Linked DNA regions of Homo sapiens: regions 1 and 2 are each linked to region 3. The links come from fine-mapping of genetic effects on gene expression. A gene starts in region 3. Each other region holds a variant in brackets. All regions are shown on one strand. Distances are from middle to middle.

Region 1 (4,248 bases), 350 kb after region 3:
CAACAGATAAAGAAAATGTATACATATACAGTGGAGTACTATTCAGCCATAAAGAAGAAGGAGATCCTGTCATTTTGCAGCAACATGGATGAAAGCAGATGTCATTAGGTTAAGTGAACAGGCACAGAAAGACAAAGTTCACACATTCTCACTTATTTCTGATTGCTAAAAATTGGAATAATTGAACTCATGTAGATAGAGAATTAGAACAATGATTACCAGAAGCTGAAAAGGGTAGTGGGAAGGTGGGATGGGTAAGGGACATGGGGATGGTTAATAGGTATGAAAAAATAATTAGAAAGAATGAATAAAACCTAGTATCTGCTAGCACAGCAGGGTGAATGTAGTCAATTTAATTGGACATTTAAAAATAACTAAGAGAATAATTGAATTGCTTCTAACACAAAGGATAAATGCTTGAGGTGATGGATACTCCATTTGCCCTGATGTGATTATTATGCATTTCATGCCTATGTAAAAGTATCTCACATAACACATTAATATATACACATGTACCCACAAAAATTAAAAATAAAGGAGTAAAAAAGTAATTTTTTAAATAATTTTATACTGCATGTAACCCATGTACAAGTAGTGCCATTACCTTGTAACAGGATATTTCCAATTCCTCCCTCTCTCCCCCTCCCCTTTTTTTTTTTGCCATTGCTGTCATGTTTTTTTTTTTTGTCCATGTGGTATAATCATCCAATACATTTATTCTTCCTTTTATCACATAGATCCACATTTTTGACCTATATAATTTTCTTTCTGTCTGAAGAACTACTTTTAATCTTTCTTTCAAGCCAGATATGCTGGCAATGATTTTTCTTGGTTTTTGCTTGTTTTGGAACTTGTGTGATTAAGGAATTATAATGAGAAAGTGATGGGGGCAAGGGTGTATTGGGCCTTGTAAGTCTTGGGAAGCAGTTTGAATTTTATTTAAATTTTAGTGAAAAGGTTTTGGTCTGGAGTTTTCATGTAATCTAATTTATTTTCCGAAAAAAAATTAAATAAATTGGCAGCTTTGTGAACAATGACGTAGATTGAGGGAAGAAGACTGGAAATAGAAGATGGGTTAGGAGGCTTTTACAGTAGATAAGAGCATTGTTTGGACTAGAGTGGTAGTAGTAGTAGACAGAAAAATGGATAGATGTGAGTCTTATTTTGGAAGTGGGTCTGACATGACTTGCTGATGTGAGGAGTAAAGAAGTGGAGGTGAATCAAGGATGATATCCAGGTTTCGTGTTCAAGTAACTTTGTAGAAGATAGTGGTGTTATTTACTGAAATGGCAAATCGGGACTGGAAACAAGTTTGGAGGAGACATTAGGAATTCCATTTTGGTCATGTTTCATTTAAGATACGATAAGACTTCCACATGGAAATATCAAGTAGAGAGGTGAATTTCAGGGCAGGAATTTAGAGAAGGTATTTGAGTTGGGATAGAAATTTGGAAGACTGTTAGCCTGCAGATGGTATTTTCGTCCATGACAATGACAGACATTACTTAGAGTGTGTGACAAGGGAAAAGGTCAGGATCTGAACTCAGGGAATTTCTAACATTTAGAAATCAGGTAGAGGAGCAGCAACCTGAGAAGGACTTGAAGGATTGACCACAGAAAGACATCTGGAATATGTGGTGTGTTGGCAGTTAAGGATTCATCGTGCAGTCTGGAAGAGTAAAGACCTGGCTTGTAACACATTCTGCATTTTTAGAAACAAAATATACAAAGTGAGAAAAAAACCTTCAGAGGACAGATGAATGTCGCTTGGGTTTTAAAAAGGAAGGGTGTTAACATGCATAACAGAAATAAATGATGGCTAGCTAATTACACTGGTCCAGGAGTATGGTTATTCTTTATTTTGATATTCTTGAAATTTTTGATTTTTTATAAAGTTGGAAAGTAATTACTTTTTAAAAGATACACATGTAACTTGAAGCTAGA[C/T]TCATTCTTTTTATTGCCAAGAGTAATGGTGTTAGTGTCACCTAATGGCAAAATGGAATATTGCAGCTATACTTATAGGCTATAATGAAAAGGTAACCTAATTAGAAAGAAAAATAACATTTCTGGGGGGATTTTAGGCATGGATCAGTAGACTTACTATGGCTTACAAGGTCCCGTGTTCTTTAGCCCTAGCCTGCTTGTCCTGCCCCTCTATCACATTACTCATTTGGTCACTGAGCAGATTGTGTAATAGTAGGGTTCTTTTTTGTCTTTCAGGTTTAGGCTCAGATATTTTCCTCTCAGAGAGCTTTTTCCTACCACCTTAATTTGTCCGTATACTTCCCATAGCTACTGTTTGTCACATTAACGTGTTTATTGTTTGCATAGCCTTTAGAGTGACTTGGAATCACCATTTGCTCCCTTTTTATTTGTTTTCTTACTAGTATGTAAGCCCCAGAAGTGCAGGCTACTTGTTTTCCTTATTCACTTAGGTAACCTCAGGGCTGAGTTGTGTCTGTTATATAGTGTATGTCTGCAGTTAAACTTAGTTGTGTGAGTACATGAACTTCTGGATATGATAGTGAGTGTTGTTTCTATGCTGTAGAGATCTATCCAGAAAACAGAATTACACTGTGTTTGATTACTGAAACATTATTTGCTACGTGAAGGCAATATAGAAGCTTTTTTCTTTTTCTTTTTGGTGTTAATAAGTGATAATGTGTCAGGAAAGAGAAGCTATATGTCTTAGGATGTTGAATTCTGTATTAGTCAACTTTAGTTACTCAGAAAAAATATTTGCAGGTACAATATTCGGTCTTGAGGAGATAAGTTTTTTTTTGAAGCATTTAGATTTAATTAATATAGCAGTGTCAGTGAATATGGTTTTGTGTCTGTGTGTGCATTTGTAGGTATTTCTAGTATCATTTAATTATTTCCTCTATTAAAAAGAAAACAGTATTTCTAAGAGAAATGAGAGTGAGTGTGTCAGGTAAACAGTGATAAATCTGGTTGAGATATGGACTGGTTTGTGTAAATTTTTAGGTAACAATATGGCTCTATTAGTCTGGAAACTTAGGATGAAGAGAGAGTACATTTCCATTAAGTGGCTCAGTCCAAGAAGGTAGCCTCCCTAACTTTGAGATAATTATCTAGCCAGCAGGATTCTTCTTCACATAAACCATTTTTAAAGCTTTATTAGTTCATGTTTTTAATTAGTTCATGTTTTTAATCAGTAGGTTTTTTTTTTTAATCCCTTTTGTTTTTCCAGGTGGTTGTGGGAAGAGAAGTTTGCAGAACTGAAATGGAGGTCAGAGCTTCATTACAGAAGGTTAGTGGATCATCTGATTCTGTGGCTACAATGAACAGTGAAGAATTTGTTTTGGTTCCTCAGTATGCAGATGATAATTCTACAAAACATGAAGAAAAACCTCAACTGAAGGTATTTTTTTCTTTTCTACATATGGTATAATTTTTAATTAAAAACTATTTGAAACTTAGGAGATGTGTAAAATGCAAAGGTTTTTCTCAAGTGCTGACTTTCAAAATAAAATCAATGTTTGATTTATCCAGACCCTAATTATTTGGTTTGTGTATTTTAAAAAGTTCTTGCTTTTGGTTGTTTACCTTTTGATTTGGAATTTTAGGGGGAAGAATAAAAGAAGAAAAAGAAGAGAAAGGATTTTTTGGTGAATTAGACATAATGGTTAAATTTTACATTACTTTATCTGGATGTTTTTGTTTCTCTTACTGCTGGGTTTTAGAAGTTAATTAAATGTTTTGCTTTCACTTGAGAGACTTTTTTCTTTATGATTTTTATGTTTTAAATCAGCTGGTAACGTTCCGTTGTGTGATTTAACAGTCGACTTGTCTAAATGTTTTTAAAGCATATCTTATATTTTTAGCATTTGAGTTTTTATTTAGATATGGTCCCTTTTTCACTTCTGTGTTGCACTTTCTAAGTCAAAGAAAAGGAAGCAAGTAAACTCAGTTATATAGGCTTGAAAATGGTATAACTGTCTTCTAGAAACAGGAATAGGAAAAGTAGTTAAAAGTGCTATATATTACTTATGACTTTTATTTAGTATTAACTATGGCATCAAAAGTGTATTAATATATCAGTCTAATAAAATATATTCTGAAAATGAGATTACTAAATGTTTATGTTGAGAATATATTGTTTTATAATTTTATTTAAATAATCAGTGGCTTTATTTTTAGATACCTGTATTTTAGCATTATTGTGTTTAAGACATCACTTATTTGCTTAGGCTTTGTGTTTCACCTGCCTTTGAGAAAACTATGAGT
Region 2 (4,248 bases), 520 kb after region 3:
GATCTCAAGTGCATCATGTTAAGTGACCTATGCCAAAGTCAAGTGACTTAATACTATGTTATTCCATTTGTATGAAATTCTGGAAAAGTCAAAACTATCATCATAGGAAGCATGTCAGTAGTTGTTAAGGACTGGTGGTATTGACTACAAGAGGGTCCAGGGAATTTGGGTATGGGGGGAATGAGGGAACTATCCTGTATCTTGGTTATGGTAGTGCTCACAAACCTATGTGCATTTGTCAAATCTCACAGAATTGTATACTAAAAATGTGAATTTTACTCTGTATAAATTGTGCCTTAAATAAATGACAAAAAAGAAAAAAAAGCCCTGAGTTTTAACTGCAGTAGGTGCTGAAGCAAGAATAGTGTCACTAAACCAAAAAAAAGGAAAAAAAGGAAAAAAAAAAAGAAATTTATGTCTTATACATAGATGGCTATTTGAAGTGTGTTCTTTTCTCTTGTCAGAACAGTGCCTTCATTATACCTTGCATATCCATTTTTCTCTCTTTATTTTGTAATATTTATTATAGGTAACTCTGTCTTAACTAACTTCTCTCTTCTTATCCTGCAAAGTTATGTCAAGTGCACATGACCTCCTTAAAGTCACTGTTGTTTTAGAGACATCTCCTGCAGTTTCTAGAGTATAGTAGGTGCTCAATTCATATTTATTGACTGAATTTTTTGATGAAATATCTCTTACCACTACAGATTTCTGTCCAATTTTATGAACATTTTATATATCTATATTTGGTAATTAATTATCTTGTCTTATATAGTGTTTTAAGAAATCTAAGTTGTAATATTCTCTATTAGGTTATACATAGATTTATTTATCTTATATCTGGCTTCATCTTGAACCCTGGGAATGTTACTTGACTAATTTGTGTCTTGATCATGTCATGGTGAGATATTTTGATTTAGCCATTTTAAAAACATCATTCTGACTGCCCAGTGAAAAATGGATTATAAGGGAACAAAGGTGGAAGCAGGCAGATTAGGAGAATGCTATTGTAAATAATCCAGGGGAGAGATAATTACATGTTGCACTAGGCTGGTAGCAGAGGGTGACATGTGATCGGATTCTGGATATATTTTAAGAGAGTACTGACTGTATTTGCTTCTCTTTTCTGTGTGGCCTGAGAAAAATAAATAACTGGCCACTGATGTCAGAGTTTTTGGCTTGAGCTACTAGAAGACTTGCTGTTTACTCAAATATAGAAGAGAGATTTGGAGGATAAAATCAAGATTTTGGAGATGTTGAGATGCATTTAAGACATCCAAGTGACTATGTCCATTAATCAATTTCATGTAACATTGAGTTCAAGGAAAAGATAGGGAAGGAAATATGAGTTTGGGAGTCATCAGTATATAGATGGTTTTTAAAGCTGTTAGAATGAAATGGGCGAGATTACTTACGGAGTGAGTTTAGATGAAGACATCATCCGAAGACATCATCCAAAGACTGCACCCTCGACCACTCCAGTGTTTGGGAGTTGGACGTATGAGGAGGATCAGGCAAAGGAGCCCAAGAAAGTACAACCAGTGAGGTGGGAGGAGAATCAAGATAGAAATCCAGTAAACTAAGTCTATCAAGAATGACACAGTAGTCAAGTGCTGATAGGTGAAGTCTGATGAAGCCTAGAATTCCACTGGATTCAACAATTTAGGTGTCACTGGTGATCTTAAGAACAGTTTCAATGGAGAGGCAGGAATGAAAGCCCAGCTGGATTGGAAATCAGCAGATATAGATAGCTCTTAAAAATAGTTTTGCTATAAAAGGATGATAGGAAACGAGGACACATTAGTAAGTGGATGTGGGTTGAGA[G/GT]TTTTTTATTAAAATGGGCAATATAGCATGTTTGTATGTTGTTAGAAAGGATGTAACAGAAAATTTGATAGTGTCAGAGAAAGAGGACATAATTGTAGGATAATTTGATGAATAGGCAAGAAAAGATGTATATGTTGACTAGTGGAGGGGTTGAATTTGGGAGCAGAGATAGCTCATTGTAACGGAAGGAAAGGTGAGGCATGGCTACAGAGGTAATAACTGACAGTTCAGTGTACTTACTATGTGCCAGGTTCTGTTCTAAGCACTCTCCATGTGTTAATTTAATTGTTGCAGCAGCTCTCTGAGGTAGGTATTATTATATCTTCATTTTAGAGGTGAGAGAACTGAGGCATAGCTATATTAGGTAGCTAGTGTAAAAATACAGAAAACAAAATGGCAGCAACTAAGTAACTTGCTCAAGATCTCACAGCCAATAAGTAATTTGCCCATGATCATATCAAGTAAATGACAGAGCCAGTTTCTGAATCTAAACCACTCTGGTTTTAGAGCCAGAACAGGGTGTGTGTGTGTGTGTGTTTGTGTGTGTTTGTGTTTTCTTTTTTTTTTTTGAGATGGAGTTTCACTCTTGTTGCCCAGGCTGGAGTGCAATGGGGCGATCTCGGCTCACTGCAACCTCCACCTCCTGGGTTCAAGTGATTCTCCTGCCTCAGCCTCCTGGGTAGCTGGGATTACAGGTATGGGCCACCACGCCTGGCTAATTTTTTGTATCTTTAGTAGAGACGGAGTTTCACCATGTTGGCCGGGCTGGTCTTGAACTCCTGACCTCATGATCTGCCTGCCTTGGCCTCCCAAAGTGCTGGGATTACAGGTGTGAGCCACCGCACCGGCCTAGATTAGTTTTTATAAGAGCATGTAGAAGTTCTAGTGAGTAAGTGAATAAACTAGGAAAATCGATAACCCTGGCCCAGGCAGTACTTGAAGCTTCTAGTCATGATTTTAAAGAGAGATTATGAGAATGGCAGTATGGTGGGTAAGAAAACAAAATATTTTGATGACTAAATAAACAGTCAAATAGAGATCTCCACTCAGTTTCTAAAATGCAAGATTTATTACTTGCTTCAATATAAATTTATGAGGCATCATCTTAGACTCTTAGAGTTACATAGAAAACAACATAGTTTCTACCTTTGAGGTTTATAATCAATGTAGGTGGGAATGCATACTCATAAGAGATTATTTAACAAAGTAACTGAAACACTGAGGCTGTTTCACATTTCTTGACCACTTTTTTTCCTGTAAAACAAGTCACTTCATTCATTCATTCATTCAACTTTTAAGTCTTAATCATCTATTCTTTCTTGGGGACTTTAACAGACACTGCTGATTTAAAGATGAGTAAGGATAGTTTCTACCCTCAAGGTTTACCATGTTATAGAGGCATGCAGACCTTTAAACAGAAAATTGTGATATTATCAATAAATCCTTCTGTAAGCATTGTAGACCTAATGGAAATTTTTGAATGTACACAGAAATAAAATAATACAATGAAGTCTCATGTGCCCACTGCCCAACTTCAATAAAGACAATATCTAACAAATTTCTTTAAGCTGAGACTCCCATTGGGTTTTTCTTTTTTTTTTTTGGAAGGTAATATTGGAGTAGGAAGAACATTGATTAACAGAGAAACAAATTGGGAAGTAATTGCATGGGTTGATGATATTTATACCAGACTCACTGACCCTATGTACAGAGATGAGGCTCCAAATGGGAAAAGACTTCTGAGGTAGAAATGACAGGGTTGCTCAGCTGAAATTCAGTGTACATTTTTTTCAGAAATAAAATATTTCTAATAATATTTTTATTAATGGACTTTAGGAAATTATTTAAAGATCTGAGGGAACTGTTTTAAAAAACTAACATAATTGATTCTTAGACCTTTAGAAAACTTGTTGGATTTTTTACAATTCAAATTTTTTTTATTTGGGCCATTATTATAATTATGTCATGATATGAAAAGGGTAACATTTGTGTAAACTACAGAAGTATAAACTACTATGTCTTTTATACGAGGATTGTCAAATATTTTTAATTGTGCTCAAATTTCTTTTTGAAACATTCGATTTAGAAATTTCCTAAGTGTCGGGAAAAATAGGTAGGCATTTACATATAGACATTTTTGTGATTTATGTAGGTAAAGCACCTGTCATGTGGAGTCCTACACTTTGTGCTTTGGGGAAATATTTTTTAAAGTGAGGATACAGTATATATGCTCAGTGAAATTTTAAACGTGTTTGAAAAGATTTTGAACTTACTCTTAAATAGCTAGATCATTCTTTTAAAAAAGCAAAACATGAATAAAGTCAGAATTCTTATAATTAAATACACTATCAGAAAGATGTAAAGGAAAAATATTTCAATACTAATTTGAAATCATTAGAAAAAATAAAAATAATATAGAAAACT
Region 3 (4,248 bases):
TTTGCCCAGTTACCTGCTTACTTGGATACAGTTTCACTTACCATTTCAACTTCCAGCTTTCTGTCTAATGCCTGTAATTTTAATACAAAATTGTCAGCAAAAAATATTTTAATGGTAGATTGGTGGTACACTGCTTAACCATTAACAGCAAACCACAACTACCCCAGATACATCAGACAGATAGTACATCTCTTCATGATTAAATCTGCTGAACTATGCAACCATCATAGTATCTGTTTTCACATTTTCTTCAGTATTAAACTTAGTATCAATATGAGAGCAAAATTCTCATTTGAAAAGAGGGGAGAGAAGCACTAACATAGATAATCATCATTGCTTTGGCTATTTTCTAATCCCTTAAAAGTGAGAAGTACAAAATAGAGGTGTCTCACCTGTGTGCCAATGGCTTGAGTTAGGCTTGCTCTTTAGGACCTGGGAAGAAACAACTTCATGTGAACTTAGGTGTACTCTCTATGTTCCCCAACTCACCATTTTGGGTGCCTCAGTTAAGATAATGGTGGTTAAGATCCTCATCATTCTAGCACTCAAGAGTAGCAAATAAACTGTCATCATTGTGGCACATCCAATGGCTTTAAACCTTTTTGAGAGGGAATTTTCAACTTACTTCAGTAGCTATTCTCATCCTTCCTTGGGGACACAACTAGAAAACAAAAAGATGCAAGCAAAACAGTGAGAATGAACCTCACAGCAGTCACGTTAAATATAAATGCTGTTAACATTAAAGCCTCAGAATAGAATTTCAGAAATCCCTTCTGTCCACTACTCTTAAAGCATCACAGGCTGAGACCACCTCTTAGATTTCATTCTTCCCACCATACTTTCCCCAATTCTTACCTGTCCATAAGGTGCTATCCAGAGCCACACTGCATCTGCACCCAGCACCATACCTAAAGAGATCAGGTACAGATTTTAATTCATTGTTCCACGGTTCTTTTTTTTAAAGAGTGTTCTTTAAAAAAACGGTTCGTCTTTTTAAACCAATGATGCAGGTAACATACCATTCATTATCTAGCGACAGGTAAAGGATACACTTAATGTTACAAAGAAGCACTGCACCCGCAGTTAAGAACCACCGATGGCGGCCGGGCGCGGTGGCTCACGGCTTGTAATCCCAGTATGTTGGGGGACCACGGCTGGTGGATCACCTGAGGTCAGGAGTTCAAGACCAGTCTCGCCAACATGGTGAAACCCCGTCTCTACTAAAAATATAAAAGCCTAGCATGGTGGCGCGCGCCTGTAGTCCCAGTTACTTGGGAGGCTGAGGCAGAACTGCTTAACTCGGGACGCGGAGGTTGCCATTAACCGATGTCGAGCCACTGCATTCCAGCCTGGGTGACAGAACGAGGCTCGGTCTCAAAAAAGAAAAAAGAAACACTAATGGAAATATTGGTGACACTGCGGAATGCAGGCACTTAAGCACGTGGACTACCACCGACAGCCTTTCATGAGAGCGGACGGCTGATGGAGGCTCGGGTCACGGCCCTTAACAATAGCTTACTCGGGTGACTCGGCATGTGCCACCATCAGAGCGGTTGGCATTCATCATTACTCTCAGATGTCCCTACCAACACAGGCTTCATCAGAGGCAGGGCACGAGAGCCGAGGCTTCTCCGCAGTTCTACTCTAACATAGTCGCAGCTTAGGTCACGCATGCACCATATGTGCAATCCCCCACCATCCTCAACTTGTAGGCCCTGCAAAGGCGCGCGACTGGCTTAGAAGTCCCAGTCAATTCAGGGTGACCTTAGCAGACAAAGGCTGGAGCGCCCCAAAACCCGCAACATTCGCAAAGATAAAACATACCTCACAGGAGTCGACTCCTACCTCGAAAAGACAGTATGGTGCCTGGGCTCCTGTATATAAGAGTTCTTTTGATGACGTCACGACGCACGCTCCCGGCAGCGTCCGCTTCGGCTCCTCCCCCTAACCTCCCTCAATCTTCCTCTCATCCAGTATCACCTTCTTCCCACCCCTTAAGTCCGCCCCTTTTCCCCGCCCTTCCTCGCCATTGTGGGCAGAGACATGACCGTCCACGTGATGCCGTGCTCCCGCCCTCCTCCCGACTGAGGAGGAAGAGCAGAGAGGGGAGGGGGCGCGAGGCAAGGAAAGCTCTGGGGATGGGGGAAGGGGGGGCGGTGTAAGGCTGAGTGATTTCCTTCCGGCACGTCGCCCGCTCCGTGGGAGGGGGTGGGGGATTTCACTTCCGGGACGGTGTTCCGGCCCATTCCGGCCCATTTCCACCCCCGGAGGTAGGTGCTGCTCCTTGACTGGACTCGGGCCCCACACCCCAGTGCCACTTCCCTGCACCGGGGTCACCTCGCCCGCCCTCCGCCGCAGCGCGCTCCTGGGGCGCTCAGCTACTTTCCTTCACCCCGCCTCCAGGCACCGGGCGACCTTCCACCCCCTTGGCCCCCGGCCGGGCTGATCTGCCGGACCCGCCCCCTCGCGGGGCCCCTCCCTCAGGACCCCGGGAAGGGCGGCCCCCTCCCCCACCGCAGCCGGGACACACCCAGATACGCACACCCACCTCCTGGCAGCTCCCCGCCCGCCGCCGCCTGGAGCCGGTCCCTGGGCGCCGCCCCCTTCCTAGTTCTCACCTGAGCGCTGGCTCCCCCGCCCGACGCCTTGTCCCCATCTTCTCCGAAGTTCCTCAGTGACATTTTGCCCTTTAGCCAGTTCCCCTCTCCCCAGGCTTCCTAACGCAGAAGAAAGCTGCTCAAGTGCTGGAGTGGCCAACCCCATGCCGTTCCCAATTCTCCCTTTTACAGCTCTCACCCCTCCAGTGCCGACGGTAGCGAAAGACTTTCCTCCAGGGGCTTCCTCACTGGGGAATTGCCGGAAAGAGCAAACAAAAAAGGCGCTGGTGTAGGCTCCAAAATAAACACATCTGAATTCATGATGGCATCGACAGAGGCTCTTATTGGATTAAAAGTTTCAAAACAAACAATAACGCTTTGGAAAAAGGTCAGATTGGCTAAAGTTGATTGTTGAAAACAGTGTATACACTTCCCTATTTAATAAGTGTGTTGTTAATGCGGGGCAGTACTGTGAGCTTGGCAGAGTAAGTTCCTGAAGTTTCAGGTGTGGTGTAACTATGTAATATATAGATAAGTGAACGCACATTGGGCTTAAGTAAATGTCTTCCTGTTCGGATTTATACAAACTATTTTCAGTAGTTGAAACTGTACTTTCAACTATCTTGTATACAGCTTCAGGTTTAGTGTTTCAGCCATTTTTTAAAAATATTTTAATGGAAAAATGTTGGCATACTTGGTAAATGCTGTATTTTTTCATCGGATCTGGAGAACTAAGTTTCAGGATGGAAGTATTCATCACCACCTCGGAATTGCCAACTTCGAATTTGGCAGATTTACCCAGCTTTCCTAATTTTGACAACTGAACTTCACATTCTCTGCATCTTGGTTGAATCCTGGCACAGCTGTGGGATTTTTCCTAGAGTTTGCTTCACAGCCCTATAACCAAAGTCTTTTTGTGGGGGGGGCTCTGATTCTTAAGCTTAGAAATATTAGCCTACATTCATGTGGGATATTAGTCCTTTTATAAAATAATAAACATAATTCTTGCAGCAGGTAGTAAAATACTAAGAAGAGGGATATCAAGCTATGTAGAATTGCATTTATTCAGAAAGCTTTCCTCCTCCAGAGAAAAGTTGTAAAGTTATGAGATGTTATATTCAGTCTGCAAGTACCTTATAGTTAACACTTAAAAGTCCTTCCCCCTACCTTCTGTTGAACTTCTGTTTTGATGTTATATAACTTATTAGTAAGGAAAGCATGGTCATAACATGAATTTTTAGGAGTCTAAAGATCACTTTTTAGTTTTAACTATGTCCTCCTGTGAAACTTAAACTGAAAAACCTGTTGGTGATTCTGTTTCCACATCTAAATATAAGGAAGGTATTTCTTTTATCTGGAGATTTTGAAACTTTACCAGATAACTATGTTTAAATACTTTTGAAATGGAAACCATCCGGGAAGTAAAATTATAATTATTAATGAGAATATGGTTTCTTTTTTCAGCAGGGTTGAATGCACCCTCAGGCACGACCATGGAGAAAGGTGGGAACATACAATTGGAGATTCCTGACTTCAGCAACTCTGTCCTGAGCCATCTAAACCAGTTGCGCATGCAGGGCCGTCTCTGTGATATTGTGGTCAATGTGCAAGGACAAGCTTTTCGGGCTCACAAAGTGGTGCTGGCTGCCAG

Evidence for each region. PIP is the estimated chance that this variant, and not a neighbour inherited with it, causes the effect.
Region 1: its variant is the best candidate, but not a certain one, in a credible set for the expression of GAS5 in esophagus muscle (GTEx, PIP 0.64).
Region 2: its variant is the best candidate, but not a certain one, in a credible set for the expression of GAS5 in whole blood (TOPMed, PIP 0.63).

Annotation. Positions count from the first base shown.
Region 1 is chr1:174,215,914-174,220,161 of GRCh38, forward strand. RABGAP1L (RAB GTPase activating protein 1 like) reads left to right here. Exons shown (of 26, transcript NM_001366446.1): 2 at 3,212-3,382. The coding sequence starts at 3,245. Among named protein-coding and RNA genes, the nearest start is that of RABGAP1L, 59 kb to the left of the region's middle. The variant C/T (reference allele first, on the strand shown) is at 1,945.
Region 2 is chr1:174,384,132-174,388,379 of GRCh38, forward strand. All of the region lies in intron 12 of RABGAP1L (RAB GTPase activating protein 1 like), which reads left to right. Among named protein-coding and RNA genes, the nearest start is that of GPR52, 62 kb to the right of the region's middle. The variant G/GT (reference allele first, on the strand shown) is at 1,825.
Region 3 is chr1:173,866,136-173,870,383 of GRCh38, forward strand. GAS5 (growth arrest specific 5) reads right to left here and starts at 1,854. Exons shown (of 12, transcript NR_002578.4): 1 at 1,825-1,854; 2 at 856-908; 3 at 626-661; 4 at 393-432; 5 at 42-71. ZBTB37 (zinc finger and BTB domain containing 37) reads left to right here and starts at 2,245. Exons shown (of 5, transcript NM_001122770.3): 1 at 2,245-2,270; 2 at 2,790-2,985; 3 at 4,065-4,248. The coding sequence starts at 4,091. It overlaps SNORD77 (small nucleolar RNA, C/D box 77), which reads right to left and starts at 235; the gene lies at 166-235. It overlaps SNORD76 (small nucleolar RNA, C/D box 76), which reads right to left and starts at 580; the gene lies at 500-580. It also overlaps SNORD75, SNORD74 and SNORA103. RefSeq lists a silencer at 2,280-2,689 and enhancers at 2,324-3,523, 4,038-4,137.